Regions from separate parts of the Homo sapiens genome. Here region 2 is linked to region 1. The links come from fine-mapping of genetic effects on gene expression. Tissue or cell type: skeletal muscle. Region 1 holds a variant in brackets; the other region holds the start of a gene. All regions are shown on one strand. Distances are between the middles of the regions.

Region 1 (8,256 bases):
GGGCAGTGGGGCTGGTAGCCGGTGGGAGAGCAGAACTAGGATGGGTAGGGCTCTGGAGCTCAGATTTGAGCACAGCGGGTGACATGATGGTATACGACTGGTCATGGGGCCAGACAGGAGAACAGGGCTCAGTGTCTGCCCATGCCACCCCTGCCGCCTGCCTGCCTCCCCGGGATACATACCCACAGGGCTCACTCACCTGGCTGTTGGCAGCAGTGCCCTGGCTACTGCTCGCCTCGGCTGATTGTTGGTAGATGCCAGGAGCAGCACCAGGCTGGGCGCGAGAGAAAGCCTGCATCGACACAGAGTCGGCCCCAGGCTCTAGGGAGGCCTCGGGACCTGTAAGGAGGGACAGGGCAGGGACAATGCCTGTGAATAATGGGGCCGGGGACTTTATGCCTGCTGGCCCCCACCACAGCTGCAGAGAGAGATGCTGGGGCTCACCTGCTCCAGTGGGATCCCCTTTGGTTCCAGTGATGCCAGGGCCCTTGGTGCCCTTGAGGTAGCCATGGGCATAGAGGGAAGACTCTGTGCCCTGGCTGTTGCCATAGCCCTCATCCTGTTGGTAGTAGCTGTAGTCGACCGGCGGCTCCTCGGAGGTGGCCCAGGTACCCTCCCCACCTTGGGAGGCCTGAAGGGCAGGTGGGAGGGGTTCATTAGAACAGGAAGGTGTGGGGGTGGGGGGTGGGGAACCTGCTAGAAGCATCTGTCCCACACGTGGGGCTAGTATTTCTACCTGACAGACAAAGCATGCAGCCTTAAGACAAGTGGAAAGCGAGGGTTGCCTGGCCACAAGAGAACAAATAGGCCAGTGGCAAACACAAGACAGAAAAACAGATGAACGCCAAAATGTTCCAGGGCTGATTCTGCTGATTCTGCTGTGTGTGGCGTGTGTGTTGGGTGTCAGGCCAAGGAAGACACCATCTTCTTACTTCTTTATTCTCTTCTCCCAATTTTCTCTCAACCACTTATACGTTATTTTTATTCAGGAACATATGATACGTGTATATCATATATGTATATATTACATATAAGGATATGTGTATATCATACCTATTCAGGACAATAAAAACCCCACCAAACAGCACAGAATGCCAGGCACAATGGCGTCGTACATGAGCGCATGGGAGGCAATTGGGAAGAAAGCTGCGGTGATGATGAAGGGGAATGTCCCAGGGGGTCTAGAGAGCCAGGAGCAAGGTAGAATAGCCATGCCAGCTACTGGGAGAGGGTTTTGCATCCATGGATAGCAAGCCAGCCTTCCTGCTTCAGAGAGGGTGCAGGAGGGTTGAGAAAGCCCAGGTCTCAGGACGCTGGGAGGCACAAGGGGTCTGAGTACCTGTGAGATGGCCCACTGGGCCGCAGCAATGGCAGTGCTGGCCACAGAGGCAGCACTGATGCGACTGCCTTCATTGGAGGCCATGTCCCTGAGGAGGATGTTAGAGACTGGGAGTGAGATAGGAGGCCCCAAGCGGTAGGGGGGAGTGGGAGGGTGGGGAGGGGAAGGGTGGGAAGGCACACAGGTGGGGCCCTGACCTCTTAGAACCCTTGGCAAACTCAACATTGATGGTCTTGCCGTCGATAGTGAGTGGTGGGTGCAGGGCCTGCAGGATCTGCAGCAGCTGGGCTGCCTCCTGTGGGAGGAGGGGAGGCAGGGACAGAAGGGTCAGGCCCGGGGAGGCCCCCGGCTCCATTGCCCGATTTCCAGGCTGGCAGCCGCGGTGGGAGGCTGGGGAAAAGGACCCTCGTCTCCACCCCGGGGGCCGGGACCCTGGCTGCCCGGCCCCCAACTGTGCCGCCCTCACCACGATGGTGGAGAGCTGGATGAAGGCAAAGCCGCGGTTCAGTTGGGTCTGCTTGTCCTTTATGACGCGCACGTTGGAGGAGGACAGCACCGCGTAGGGTGCCAGGGCCCCCAGGATGGAATCCATGGTGCTGTGTGGGTTCAGGTTGCGCAAAATGATGGCTGTGGGAAGGGGCCCAATGTTAGAGGACACCCCTGGCACTCTTGCCAGCCCTGCCCTTCAATGCCCCCACTGCTCCCTTTCCTCTGCCCCCACTCACTCCGTGCCTTTGCAACTGCCGCTTCCCTCACTGCTTCCTCCAGGATCAACTCTGCTTGGCGGTCCAGGTGCCAGCCTGGCTGCCTGTCTGCTGAGAACCTTCCCGACACACCCCCAAAGTCAGGTGGGATGTTGCCACTCCCCCTGTTCTCCCTACATCAAATGTCTATCCCCGCACCAAGTGGAGATTCCATGAGGATGAGGTCCTGCTCACTGCCATTTCTCTGGTCTTGGTGAGCCCAGCCCGACACCCTAGGGCACAGAGGAAGAAGGAACAACTGACTCACTGTCATTGGCGTTCTCTGAGCTTGGCTCCGAGCCCTGTGACAGGGCTTGGGAGGCCAGGACTCCCTGGGCCTGGTAGGGCTGCGGCAGGGGAAGCAGGCCCTGGCTCAGCTCCCGGCCACCCAGTGGCAGTGTCTGCTGATCCAGCCTCGTGCCGAGGGGCAGCTTCTGCTCTGCCTCTGTCAGGGGCAGTGGGAGACAGGCTGGTGATAAGGGGAAGGCTCCACGACTGGTCACCCTCCTCCCTATACCAAGCCCTGAGCACAGACCCCTCACCCTTCCCTTCTCCCCAACCGCTCCGCCCTGGAGAGCACGAGAGGTAGGTGGGCCTCACCTGACTTGGGCACGCCACATTTGAAGCACTTCTCTCGGCGTTTGAAGTTCTGGACGCCACACTGTGAGGCACAGGCCAGGCCGTCAGAGGGAGCAGGGATTTCCCACTGCACCCTCCAAACTTGGATGAAGAGATCTCCCAGGGACCCCGCAGTGCCCCAGGAAGGAAAGCCCCTAGGCAATGGTGGCAGGTGCCTTCTGAACCTTCTGATGTTGTTCTCAGTACTGTGCATCTTCCCTTTCCAGACTCTCATTTGTCCTCTGTGCCAACCCACTCAGCTCAGGAATAAACAACTCCCCCATTTGGTACAACAACTCCCTCCTCTCCTTCCTCTGCCTTCTTAAGGCCACCAACTCCCAGGACTGTTCCCCGCCTCAGGTATTCAATCCCTTTATTAGGTTCCTCTCCCTGAAACTTGCTCCTCTATTCAGAAACCTTTCAGTGTTTCAGCCCTAGAAGTCAGTAGCCAGACCCGCACCCCTCCTCTTAGCTCTAGGACTGGGTTGGATCCTGCTACGCTTGAGAAATTTTCCTTGAATGTTCCAGCATCTGGAGACCCAGCTTCTACCACACTCCATCTCTGTTCCAGACTCAGGTACTAAGCACCACTCCTGGGCCAGGCCCTGCTGCACATGGCCAGAACATGGTCTCTGCCCTCATGGCCTAATAGCACAGGGGCAGATGCAGCATGAAGAGGGGCAGGTCGGTCTGCATGGACCATCCAGCAGGGGCTCGGGGAGGGAAATGGGCTGGGGGTGGGGTGCCATTTACTCGGCAGGGACAGTCCCTGCACAGAAGCAGGGAGGTTTGACCTGGGATGCCCAGAAGTTTCATTTTGTTAAGCCTTGCTGGGGAGGGATTGTTATCGGAGGGAACAATGGACTTTCCGAAACTGGTGTGGGAGAGTAAGGGGAGAAGCAAAAGCCAAGGCCGGGGAAGGAAGCCAGTTAGGTAATGGAGGATCTTATGCTTAAGCTGAGCTGGGGCTGGTTAAGCAGAGGAGGAGAGGCGTGGGTAGTCAGAGGTGGTTTTGAGGAATGTTCCAGGTGAGGGCGTGGGAGAAAGAGGACAAGAGGCCAGCATACCAGAGAGGGCTCCACAGTGAGTGGGTGAGAGCGTGACGATTGGCATGAGCAGCGGGAATGGCGAGGGAGGGAAGGTGGCGTTTCTGTGATGGAAGTGACAGGACCTGGTGGCCAACAGGATGCAGGGGAGGGGAAGGAGTTCAAGAGAATTCCCTGGTTTTGGGCTGGGCGTGGTGGCTCACGCCTGTAATCCCAGCACTTTGGGAGGCTGAGGCGTGAGGACTGCTTGAGCTCAGGAGTTCAAGACCAGCCTGGCAAACATGACGAAACCCTGTCTCTACCAAAAAAAATAAAAATAAAAAGGCAAAAATTAGTGGGTGTGGTGGCATGCGCCTGTGGTCCCAGCTACTCTGGAGGCTGATGGCTTGAGCGCTGGAGACAGAGGTTGCAGTGAGCCCAGATTGCTGCACTCCAGCCTGGGCGACAGAGCCAGATCCTGTCTCAAAAAAAAAAAAAAGAGAATTCCCTGGTTTTGAGGCTATCTGGAAACACAGGAAGGAGTTCCACTGTCACTTTGTCTTTATCTCTCCAGAAATGTTAAGCACCAATCCTCTGATGGGACTTTTTTTTTTAAAACAGATGCACCACTCTCCCTGACTAGGCAGAGTACTTCCTGGGGAGAGGGTTGGGGCCTCTACAAACTGTGGAATCACAATGCTGGCCCCAGGGCAGACCTGAAGCCACTGTGGCATCCAAGTCCCTGTGATCAGGAGCAAGGCACAGGGCACAGCTAAAGGTTCACCCATGGTTCCACCTCTCTGAGCCTCAGCTTCCCCTCAGGGAAGACAGAGGTGACTACAAAACCACAGCCTCCAGTTTCAGGTTTGACTTGGCCTGGTCAGAGTGGCCTTCAGGCTTGAGCTACCTGCTATGGGCTCTCAGAACGCTCTGTGCTTTTCTTTCATGATTACAGTTAACAATTCGACTGTGTTAAATGTGGGCCAGGCACTGTTCTGAGTGTTACTCTCTCATTAACACAGCTGAATCCTCCCAACCACCTTTTGGGAGAGGTGTCATTAATATTCACATTTTAGAGATGGGGAAAGTGAGGCAAAGAGAGGCTAAGCACCTTGGCCAAAATCAAGGCCGATCTGG[G/C]ATAGTCTCATTTCAGCCAGTCTGGCTCTGAAGCCCACATTCTCCACACCACCACTTCAAGTCTACACTGTCACTAATTCATCATCCACGTATATATTTCCTTAAAGTCTACTGGAACTCCAGGCAAGACTGCATTTTAGGAGGACAGAGCCTGCACCAAGTGAACGCTCACTACACATTTGTATATGGCTGGCTAGGAATGGTGACTACTCAAGCTGAGCTAGCAAGGGATAGAGAATGAGAGAGAGAGAGAGAGAGAGAGAGAGAGACAGAGGGAGAGGAGAGATTGGGGGAGGGGGAGAGATGGAGGGAGAAAGAGCGGGAGAGGAAGGGAGAGATCGCCGCCACTGCTGTTGCTGTCTCTGTCCATGACAACTGCTGCCCACCGCCCCTGTACCTTATTGCACAGCCAGTCCTCATTGATCTTGGGCTTGGGGTCACTGTAGTGCATCGACACCTTCTGGCCCAGGATGTTGAGGGAGTGCTGCGGGAAAAAGCAGAGCACAGTGAGGTCCAGGCAGCAGTGCCCCACGCACCGTTTCAGCATAGGAGAAGAGAGTGAGCGAGCCCTTCAGCTGGATGGATGAGGGACAGGGAACGGAGGGAGGTCGGAGAGCGGATGGAGGGAAGAAGGGAGGTAGGGAGGGAAAGCGCCACAGCTCTCGGGCGCAGCTGTTTGCTGCTCTGCCGGGCACACGCACGCACACATGTGAACACACACCACCAGGCACACAGTGTTCGGCTGACCGACGCTTGCCGGACAGTGGGGAGAAACCCCCACTCGGCCCTGACACTGCCAGGCCACACCCAGGGCCAGGACTACACAGGCTACACTTGGGGGGTGAGGGGAGACAGGGAGGGGGAGGGAGAGGGGAGAAAAAGAGAAAGAGAGCGCAGGTGCGCTAGTGCTGGAGAAGGGGAAAAAGAAAGAGCCATTTCGAACAGATGGAAGTTTCTGCCATGAGGCCGTCTTCCCATGGATGGCTGGGTCCTGGGCCCATGGCACTAGCCTACCAACCCCGAGGAGACGGCCCCAGGGCTGCCTCTGCCGGGATCCCCCATTCTACCACCTCTGCCCCTTCCTCCCCTGAAACTGCTCTCCAGTGCCCTACACCAGGGATCTGGGCAGGGGTGGGTGACCAGGCAGATCTTTGGGTCTCGGAGGTCCCAAAGCTGCTGAGTTGGGATCCCGTGCCAGGCTTGGGGGACAGGCTCCCCCCAGGGCTGACTGTGCACAGGTCCTTGCCGAGAAGACAGAGCTGCCTGAGGTGGTGCCTCCTGCGAGTGTGGAGATGTGATAGGAAGGGTAGGGGCGGCGAAGTGAGGCCAGGGTGTCGATAAAACTATCATACTCGACGGGAACTTGAGATCAACAGAGCAGTGCTGTCCCCTTGCATGAAAATCAAAGGGCCAAATTCACATGCAGGGATGGGGCTGACAAAATGAGTCTTGCTAGTGACTGTGCCAATAGCTAAGCTCCTCACTGGCAGGACTTCCAGTGGTCCTGAGGGTGGAATGAGGTCCTGGCTCTGGCTAACCCCAGAGAGGGGTGCCCCCCCCACCAGCCCCGGGGGAGTGGGAAGCTAGGTGAAAGAACCCACCCTGGCAGCTCTTTCTCTGAACGCTCAGCTGGGAGAGGTGAAGGGGCAGCACTAGTGCCTGGTGGTAGGAAGGGGCCAGTGGTGAGTGTGGGCTCTGGATGAGAAGCCCAGTGGGGTAGCGAGAGATGGGAAGAGGAGATAGTGAGGGTCAGGAAGGGGAGAGAGGGGGCGGGGGGATGGGACACAGGGCCACAGGGCAGGGAACTGTGTCCATAAGAATCAGGCGATGGGGAGCGCTCGATTACAAAGTAGTATTTGTTTGGGGGGGGGTTCAAGTGCGGCAAAGCAACCTGATTGGCTTCCATCCATCGTGTAGCGTCCTGCAAGTGACTAAACTCGACGAAGGCGAAGCCCCGGCTCTGACCTGGAGACAGCATTCAGATACAGACGCAGTGGGTTAGTCAACAGCTTTGGACACACGGCGTTCCCGGGGGCGGGACCCGAGGGGAGAGGACGGGGGGCAGAGAGGGAAAGGGGAAGAGGAAAAAGGAAGAAAGAGAAAGAGGCAATCAGAGAGAGAAAGACTAGCGGGCGTGGGGGGCAAGGTAGATGGCCAGGTGGGGCAGGGAAGGTGGAGGGAGAAAAACAGAGGCCAGAGGTCGGTAGGGGGAGAGACACACACACCAACTGGGAAGAGAGAGATGGGGCTCGGGCAGACCTGCCCAGCCAGCCTGGGGTGACAGAGACGGAGAGAAGCAGCTGGGAGGGAAAGAATACGAGAGATCTGCCTCCAAAGAAGGAGGGAGGGGATGGTGGGCAGGCTGCTGGCTCCACACAAGCCACAATACGTAACTCCAGGGCGGGCCCAGCTCAAGGCCAGGGGTGCCCAGGAGGGGTCCTGTAACAGGTGTTGAATCACAGGAGCAAAAGAGAAGCTGGGCCAGGCTGCTCTGCGAGGCTAGGAAGGCTCTTGGCCCATTGGAAACCAGGGGCGGTTAAAGACACGACCTCATCTCAGCCTCACCGCAGCGCAGGGGAGGCGGGCCTCGCTAGGGAGCCACCTCAGGGCCACAGGGTGGAGACTACAGCCACAAACAGTCCAGGTTCCCCTGGACAAAAGGAGAATGGTGGCCAGGATTGGCCAGGAGGACCTTAGAGGTAAGAATCAATGGGTGCCTGGGAGAAGCGCCCAGGGCCATTGAGAAGGCCGCACCTGGAACACCTCCTTGTGGAGAGAGAGACCCAGAAGCTGTCCGTGTGTGGTGTAGTTGGGGTGATGCAGAGCAAGACCTACATGCAACCAAGATTCCAGGCTTGGGAAAGGGATTCAGGGTTGAGGCCTCAGGATAGCATGTCCTTTAGAGGCAGATACATGGGGAGGGCTTGGATGAGAGGGGCTTGGGGGGGCATGCTTAATGTTCAAAAGAATAACCGTTAGGATGCATAGGAGGATGGAATGAATAATATAGTTGGGGGGGGCAGAGAGAGAGAAAGAGAGAGAGGGAGAAAGAGAGAGAGAGAGAGAGAGAGAGAGAGAGAGAGAGAGAGAGAGATGGAGGTGTGGGGAGGAGAGACTGAGAGATGGAGAGAGAAGCCCAGGCAGAGTGAGGCCCCACTGTGCCTGCCTTGGGGAGCCTGGGCAGAGGTCCTGTAGAGACAACTCCCCCCACCACCACCCTGCTAACCTCAGGCCAGCTCCAAGCAGCCTGCAAGAGGGAGGGAGGGAGGGAACAGGCGAGGCCAGGAAGTCCTGGCTGTTCCTTGGGATGTGTCCTTGGATAAGAGCCATCCCCTGCTTCCCCCTTGGGACACACATGTGGGACCACCACGTCAGAGCTACTTTCTGGTCAGAG
Region 2 (8,000 bases), 32 kb after region 1:
CACTTTGGGAGGCCAAGATGGGAGGATCACCTGAAGTCGAGAGTTCGAGACCAGCCTGACCAGCATGGAGAAACCCCATCTCTACTAAAAATACAAAATTAGCCAGGCGTGGTGGCACATGCCTGAAATCCCAGCTATGTGGGAGGCTAAGGCAGGAGAATCGCTTGAAACCGGGAGGCAGAGGTTGTGGTCAGCCAAGACTGCGCCATTGCACTCCAGCCTGGGCAACAAGAGTGAAACTCTTTCTCAAAACAAAGAAACAAAACAAAACAAAACAAACAAACAAAAAAAAACAGCACTGTTGGCCAGTTACAGCGGCTCATGCCTTTAATCCCAGCACTTTGGGAGGCCAAGGGAGGAGAATTGCCTGAGCCCAGGAGTTTGAGACCAGCCTGGGCAACATAGAGACACCCTGTCTCAAAACAAAAAACAAAAAACAAAAAAAACCTCCCACTCTGAGTAATACAAAGTTCAGGAAACAAAACGAAGACTGTGGCACCATGCCATGTGTGTCAACTGAAAACACAGTCACTCAAAACAACACTTCATATTTTCATTTTCTATGAAAATGTATCTATATGATACATTTATGTATGTATTTATATGATACATGTATCTATATGATACATTTATATGAAAATGATCTATATGATAAATCTATGATACATTTTCTATGATATGTATCATAGAAGGATACATTTTCTATGATATGTATCATAGAAGGATACATTTTCTATGATATGTATCATAGAAGGATACATTTTCTATGATATGTATCATAGAAGGATACATTTTCTATGATATGTATCATAGAAGGATACATTTTCTATGATATGTATCATAGAAGGATACATTTTCTATGATATGTATCATAGAAGGATACATTTTCTATGATATGTATCATAGAAGGATACATTTTCTATGATATGTATCATAGAAGGATACATTTTCTATGATATGTATCATAGAAGGATACATTTTCTATGATATGTATCATAGAAGGATACATTTTCTATGATATGTATCATAGAAGGATACATATCAAACACGACAGAGCAGCTGCCCACAGAGGTGGGAATTGGGAATAAAAATGAAAAAATAAACATGACAAGAGGAAGCCTTTTGCTGACCTATGACAGAAACCTACCTTGAACTGGAAAGTATGATGAACTCAAACCTCTGCACTTGAGGGCTTTTAAAAGTCAATGGTTTTACTTGGTAATAAAGTTTGAACAAAGTATGTATGTCAGCTACTCAAATTCAGAAATGGCCACAGAGCACTTCTAGTGAATACCGTCCAAAATCAAATGTCTTTCAAAAAACATTTCTAATGAAAGCCAAGACTGAATAACACTAGGTGATGACCTTATCTCAAATTTGGGCTCACTTTTCAGAAAACAAAATATTACAATTCTACATTTTTAAAAGGAGTGGTGGTAGAAGAAACACTTCGTAAAACATTTTAAAAATTATTTTCTCTTTTTATAAAGCTATTGACTCTTGAGTCTTAATAGAGGCTTTCTGAGAGAGTTAGGTCTGCTTTTCTAGGCAATCTTCAAGTGTCATGGCTGGGTCACCTGCCTCGGAATCACCTGGATGGCGAGGGATCACTGAATTTTACTCAGGATTTCTGTATTTTACCCAGTGTTCCAGCTATTCCTTGTTCATAGCAGAGCTGAAGAAATAACTGTCTGAGAGTATCCATTCCCAGCAAGTATCATGCCAACTGTAGCCCATACTGTCCCTGGAGTCTTCCACTATCTGACCTGGCTTGTCCCCTAGTGGTCCCGGGCAAATCCTGACTCTGATGGTGCCATTCCCACCCATCCCTCATACCCCAGGCTATAGCCCCAACCTCAACCTCCCACCCGTTAACTGCATAGCGTCCCTGTGACACCCTGAGTACTGAGAAGGATGCAATCTCATGTCTCATTCATCACTGCACTATCAGAGCCTAGCACAGGTCCTGGCTCACAACAGGTGCCAAACACCTGTCTGCTGAAAAGAAACCCATCATCTGCTATGCTGTTTCCTCTACCCAGAAGCCCCATCCTAGCACCTTCTTGGATCAATTCTCACATAGACGCAAGCCTAGGCTGTCTGGGAAGCTGAGAACAGATAACTCACCGTCTTTCATACTCCATGTCCTGATAGGGCCTTCGGGGGCTGCTGGGGCCCCTCCTCAGCCGCTGGCTCCGTTTCACTTCCCAGCCACCCCCGCTGCTGCTACCATGATCTGCCAGCCTGGGTGATGCTTCCTGCAGGGACTCTGGGGAGAGTGGAGGGAAGAAAGGGGTCAAAACTGTTGGGACTGAGAGGGCCTCCTTGAGAAACTCTTATTGTCAAGGCTCTCCGCTGCCCCTTAGCCCAGGGACATTGTCTTCCAGCTCCCAGCACTCCTGTGCATCACAGTATGAAGGTAGCCCCTACTTGGCCTGCTCCTCCCTTTCCCCGCAAACATAAGGCTAGAGCCCACTGCCCTAGAAAACAGCAAGGACTTCAGCAGACAGGGGGCATCTTGCAGAGAGACCTGGCGGGGCCACCCACAGTGTGATCAGGGCTTTGCCACCTAAGACAGGTAGACAAATTCAAGCCTGGGGCTGCATCCCAGGGTGGGGGTAGGGGACTCTCAGGGCTGAAAGTCTTGCCTGAGATTCAGCACATCAGACAAGACTTCACAACAATGGGGGCCCCAGGCTCCTTCCACAGGCCCCAAGGGACCATCTCATCCTCCCAACAAGCTGCTGGCTGTCCCCTATAAGGCAGCAAAAGACCATGAAAGGCTCTTGGGGGGGTGTGTGAAGGGGCGAACTTGGCGACGAGACAGCTGCCACCTCCCTGGGCTCCTGGCCAACACAGCCTTGGCCCTCACACAGCAACTGGCTCAGCCCTGAGCCCTGTCTCTTATGTGCAGCCCGGTCCTAAGGTGGTTCCCTCCCCAGGGCTCAAGCCCGGTTTCCAGAGGCAAAAGGGGCCCTTTTGGAGGCTGTTCTGAACCACTGTGCTCTTCTATTGGGATGGAGCAGCAGCCACTTCATCCAACCCTCAGGGCTGTGGTGAGAACTCAGGGAGTCCTGAGAACCCTGTGACCCAGCCAGAGGTCAGGATGAATCCCAGATCTTCAGGCCCCACCCTCTGAATAAGAAGCAGGTAAAGCCAGGCAATAATAGCACCTGCTCAACACTAGGTTGCTGCCACACCTTTGCTCTATGCTCGTGCACACACATACACAGACAAACACACTCCAATTTTCTCTTCCTCCTCAAGCCACAGGGAACCCGAGTTACCTGCTCCCAGGTGGGCAAGAGTTAGAATCACACAGAGGCACTGGCGTCTGAGAGCACAAAAACCTTCAAGAGACTCTGGCAAAGGGGCCAGAGTCACACAGTAACATCCACCACAGCCAAGGGCCAGTCACAGACACGAGCCCCAAATAACTACGGGCCCACATCACAGAAGGAACACACAGTAAGGACCACAATTACACAGTGGGTCCCCTTTCCATGGATGAGCGTCAGTGTCACAGATACAAACTCCCCAAAAGAAGGGGCAATGAGTCACACACACATTCCCTGCATGCCCCTTCCCACCCAATAAGTGGGTTAGGGTCAATCAAAAGACAGTCGTCCCCCAAGCCCCGCCCCATGGATAAGGATCAGAGTCACAGACCGCCCCCCCTCAAAGGGTAAAGACCAGAGTCACATCCCCCCTCCGATCCCCCAGGAATAGAGACCAGAACCACAGAATATTTCCCCATGGACCGATAAACACCAGAGTAACACAGAGCAGCATCCCCTCTCCTATGCACAAACTCAAAGTCGCAGACAACCGCTTCCCCACTGATAAACTTCGATGTAGCCGACACAGTGATCCACAGTAGCCCACTCCCATCCGTCCCTCCCTTCCCCCAACCCGCATGCACCCATCCCATGTCCCAGTCGCGCACGCGCCTTTGCTCACACCAAAAAAAAAAAAAAAAAAAAAAAAAACCAAAAAAAAAAAAACCCTCCCGGGTTGAGACATTGCACCAACCCCTCCGTTCCGCGCATCTCCCCCGACCCGAAGTCCGCCCTCGCGCCTCCTCTACGTCCCCGCCCCGGGCCCCTTACCTCCGCCCCCACGACCAGCGTCGACGCTCACCTTCTCGGCCCGGGCTGTCAAGGAAGGGCTCCCAGACATCACCTCTGCCCGCCGCCACCTCCTCCAACTCTCCCAGCTCAGCCGGAGCCGGAGCGCGCAACAACCAAGTCCGAGACTGGAGGCAGATCGGGGGGAGGGGAGAAGCGCCAAGCGCGCTGCCCTCCCAGGGAAACTCACTGCCGCCTACTCCCAGCCGGCCACAGTCACCAGCTCAAAATGGCGACGACGAGAAGGGAGTCGGCGCTCCGACCACCATCCACCTACTAAGGAAGCGCGCTCTGGCCGGCCCCGGCGATTGGTCACCGCCCGCTAGGGGACAGCCCTGGCCTCCTCTGATTGGCAAGCGCTGGCCACCTCCCCACACCCCTTGCGAACGCTCCCCTAGTGGAGAAAAGGAGTAGCTATTAGCCAATTCGGCAGGGCCCGCTTTTTAGAAGCTTGATTTCCTTTGAAGATGAAAGACTAGCGGAAGCTCTGCCTCTTTCCCCAGTGGGCGAGGGAACTCGGGGCGATTGGCTGGGAACTGTATCCACCCAAATGTCACCGATTTCTTCCTATGCAGGAAATGAGCAGACCCATCAATAAGAAATTTCTCAGCCTGGCCGAAAATGGTTGGCCCCACGAAGCCACGACAACTGGAGGCAAAGAGGGTTGCTCAACGCCCCGCCTCATTGGAAAACCAAATCAGATCTGGGACCTATATAGCGTGGCGGAGGCGGGGCGATGATTGTCGCGCTCGCACCCACTGCAGCTGCGCACAGTCGCATTTCTTTCCCCGCCCCTGAGACCCTGCAGCACCATCTGTCATGGCGGCTGGGCTGTTTGGTTTGAGCGCTCGCCGTCTTTTGGCGGCAGCGGCGACGCGAGGGCTCCCGGCCGCCCGCGTCCGCTGGGAATCTAGCTTCTCCAGGACTGTGGTCGCCCCGTCCGCTGTGGCGGGAAAGCGGCCCCCAGAACCGACCACACCGTGGCAAGAGGACCCAGAACCCGAGGACGAAAACTTGTATGAGAAGGTGAGAGGCGGGGGGGGGGGGGGGGGTAGTGGGGACGGAACCCCGAAGGGGTCAGTCCGGGATCGGCAGATGGGGCGCTGTAGAGGACGTTCTTAGGCAGTAGAGGACTGCGCGGCCGGCGAAAGCCTAGAAGACTTGGGAATTTTGCCTACCTTGTGTTCCTCCTTTGTCTCTCGGTATCTTCGTTCCAGGGCCAGAGGCAGGATTGGTTTTATTTTGCAGACAGAAATCACACCTCAAGTGGACAGCGCTCAAAACACGTTAGAAGCAGTATAGTACAACGATAATACTAAACACCGATATGGCACTTGCTCGTTGCCGTCTGCATTCTTTTTTTTTTTTTTATAGGGACGAGATCTCGCTATGTTGCCCAGGCTGGTCTCGAACTCCTGGCTCAAGCGATCCTCTCGCCTCGGCCTCCCAAGGTGCTGGGATTACAGGCATGAGCCACCGCTCCGGGCCCCGTCTGTGTTCTAAACACTTGACATGCATTAGCTCATCTTATACTCGAAACAAACCCCATTTCGAGGTGGGCTCTATTATTATACTCATCCTACAGATGAGGAAACTGAGGCACAGAGATGTTAAGTGGATTGCCCTAGCTCACATAACTGAATACATGGTGGAGGTGGAACTGGTATTTGAATTTAGGGCTACCAGGTCTGCTGTGCTGTATTAATAGCAGACGCTGTGAAATCAGGCAGCACTGACGGTTACCCACCCGTGTGATCTTGGTAGCATAAACCCTTGGTGCCTCAGTTTCTTTGTCTGTAAGATGGGAACAGTAATAGGACACCTTCTAAAAAATAGGACACCCCACCTGCCTCATGTAATTAAATGAGTAAAAATGGTCAGAACAGCAGCTGGCACTTCGTAAGTATGTACTCAGCACTAGAATGTGTTTATTATTGCCATGTTTCACCTCACTGAGATATTGTGAGGTGTTTCTATGTGAAAAGACTGGCACATAATAAGTACTTCATCAATACTAACCTCTGGTTAAGGGGCTTGGATATATAGGATGCTTGTTCATTCTGTAAATATGTATTGAGGGCCTGCTGTATGCCAGGCTCAGTTCAGGGCCCTGGGGATACAGCAGTGTGGAAATCAGACAAAGCCCATGCTCTCATAGAGCTTACATGATAGTGGGGAAGACAGAAAATAAACAGTAAAATATTAGAAAACAATAATACAAAGTAGTATAATAGATAATATAACATGAGAATGTATGATATACAGAGAATGGGGAAAGTATGCTACTTAGGTAAACATAGACTAGAAAGAGACAGAAGGAAGAGAGGATGTGAAGACAAAGTTAAGCAAGATAAGTGGATAGAGAATGACTTGGGTGTAGGGGGCTATTTCATTAGCTTGAGCTATAAGAAATTGCCAGTATTCAACCATTTGTGACCTATAAAAATAGCAGTTTCCTATGCTTCAACTTTGAAAGACAAGGTAACTAGGGAGTGCCTCCTGAAGGAAGTGGTGATGAATCTAAAACCTTGAATGAGGAGACAGATCCAGCCATGACTAGAGCTGGAAGAAAGGCTTTCCAGGCAGAGAGAGCAGCAAGTGCAGTGGCCCTGCAGTGGGAAGGAGCTTGACATATCCCAAGAATGGAAACAGAGGAATTTAGTGAGAGGGGCACATGGAGACCAAGTTATGCAGGGCCAGAATAAGGCTTTGTGGAGCAGCAGGAAGCCCTCATTGACCTCTATTTCTCCACAGAACCCAGACTCCCATGGTTATGACAAGGACCCCGTTTTGGACGTCTGGAACATGCGACTTGTCTTCTTCTTTGGCGTCTCCATCATCCTGGTCCTTGGCAGCACCTTTGTGGCCTATCTGCCTGACTACAGGTGCACAGGGTGTCCAAGAGCGTGGGATGGGTAAGAGGCAGAGGCAGGGATGGAGGTTGAAGGGGATTCTGCCAGGAGTTTTGTTCCTGCACCATTGGGAATGGGGAGCTGAGATGAGGGATTGGTATCAGTTGAGGCTCCCTCACGTCTACCCCTGCTATTTGCACTACCAGGATGAAAGAGTGGTCCCGCCGCGAAGCTGAGAGGCTTGTGAAATACCGAGAGGCCAATGGCCTTCCCATCATGGAATCCAACTGCTTCGACCCCAGCAAGATCCAGCTGCCAGAGGATGAGTGACCAGTTGCTAAGTGGGGCTCAAGAAGCACCGCCTTCCCCACCCCCTGCCTGCCATTCTGACCTCTTCTCAGAGCACCTAATTAAAGGGGCTGAAAGTCTGACTCGCTAGTGTTGATTGTGTTGTGAAGGGGATATGGGATGGGGGTGTCAAAAGCTTTAAAAGGGCTGCTGCAACCTTCCCTGGGTGTTCTGGCTGTATATTGCTGTGTAGCAAACACCTAAAAACTTAGTGGCTTAAAACCACAATTCAGTCTTCTCTTTCATGGCCCTGTGGGTTGACTGGGCTCAGTAAGGTGGCTCTTCTAGGGGTCTCAGGTAGTTGTAGTTAGATGGTGGCTGGGACTGGAGTCATCTGAAGGCTCAACTGGGCTGGGTATCTAAGATGGCTTCTTCACTCACATGTCTGGCACTTCAGTCCTCTTCCATATGGCCTCTCTCCAGCAGAACAGCCTTGACTTTTTTTTTTTTTTTTTTTTTGAGATGGAGCCTTGCTCTGTCACCCAGGCTAGAGTGCAGTGGCACAATCTCTGCTCACTGCAATCTCCACCTCCCGGGTTCAAGCGATTCTCCTGCCTCAGCCTCCAGAGTAGCTGGGACTACAGGTGCCCGCCACCATACCTGGCTAATTTTTGTATTTTTAGTGGAGACAGGGTTTCACCATGTTGGCCAGGATGGTCTCAATCTCCTGACC

What was found. PIP is the estimated chance that this variant, and not a neighbour inherited with it, causes the effect.
Region 2: it holds the start of NDUFB11, and the variant in region 1 is fine-mapped to the expression of NDUFB11 in skeletal muscle (GTEx, PIP above 0.99).

What each region holds. Positions count from the first base shown.
Region 1 is chrX:47,173,590-47,181,845 of GRCh38, reverse strand. RBM10 (RNA binding motif protein 10) reads right to left here. Exons shown (of 24, transcript NM_005676.5): 6 at 6,754-6,827; 7 at 5,260-5,346; 8 at 2,683-2,743; 9 at 2,351-2,527; 10 at 1,806-1,966; 11 at 1,537-1,634; 12 at 1,340-1,427; 13 at 445-631; 14 at 200-339; 15 at 1-97. Among named protein-coding and RNA genes, the nearest start is that of UBA1, 16 kb to the left of the region's middle. RefSeq lists an enhancer at 2,123-3,322. The variant G/C (reference allele first, on the strand shown) is at 4,863.
Region 2 is chrX:47,141,626-47,149,625 of GRCh38, reverse strand. NDUFB11 (NADH:ubiquinone oxidoreductase subunit B11) reads left to right here and starts at 4,924. Exons shown (of 3, transcript NM_001135998.3): 1 at 4,924-5,153; 2 at 6,882-7,012; 3 at 7,186-7,410. The coding sequence starts at 4,947. The coding sequence ends at 7,309. RBM10 (RNA binding motif protein 10) reads right to left here and starts at 4,405. Exons shown (of 24, transcript NM_005676.5): 1 at 4,141-4,405; 2 at 2,128-2,269. The coding sequence starts at 2,144. RefSeq lists an enhancer at 4,112-4,381.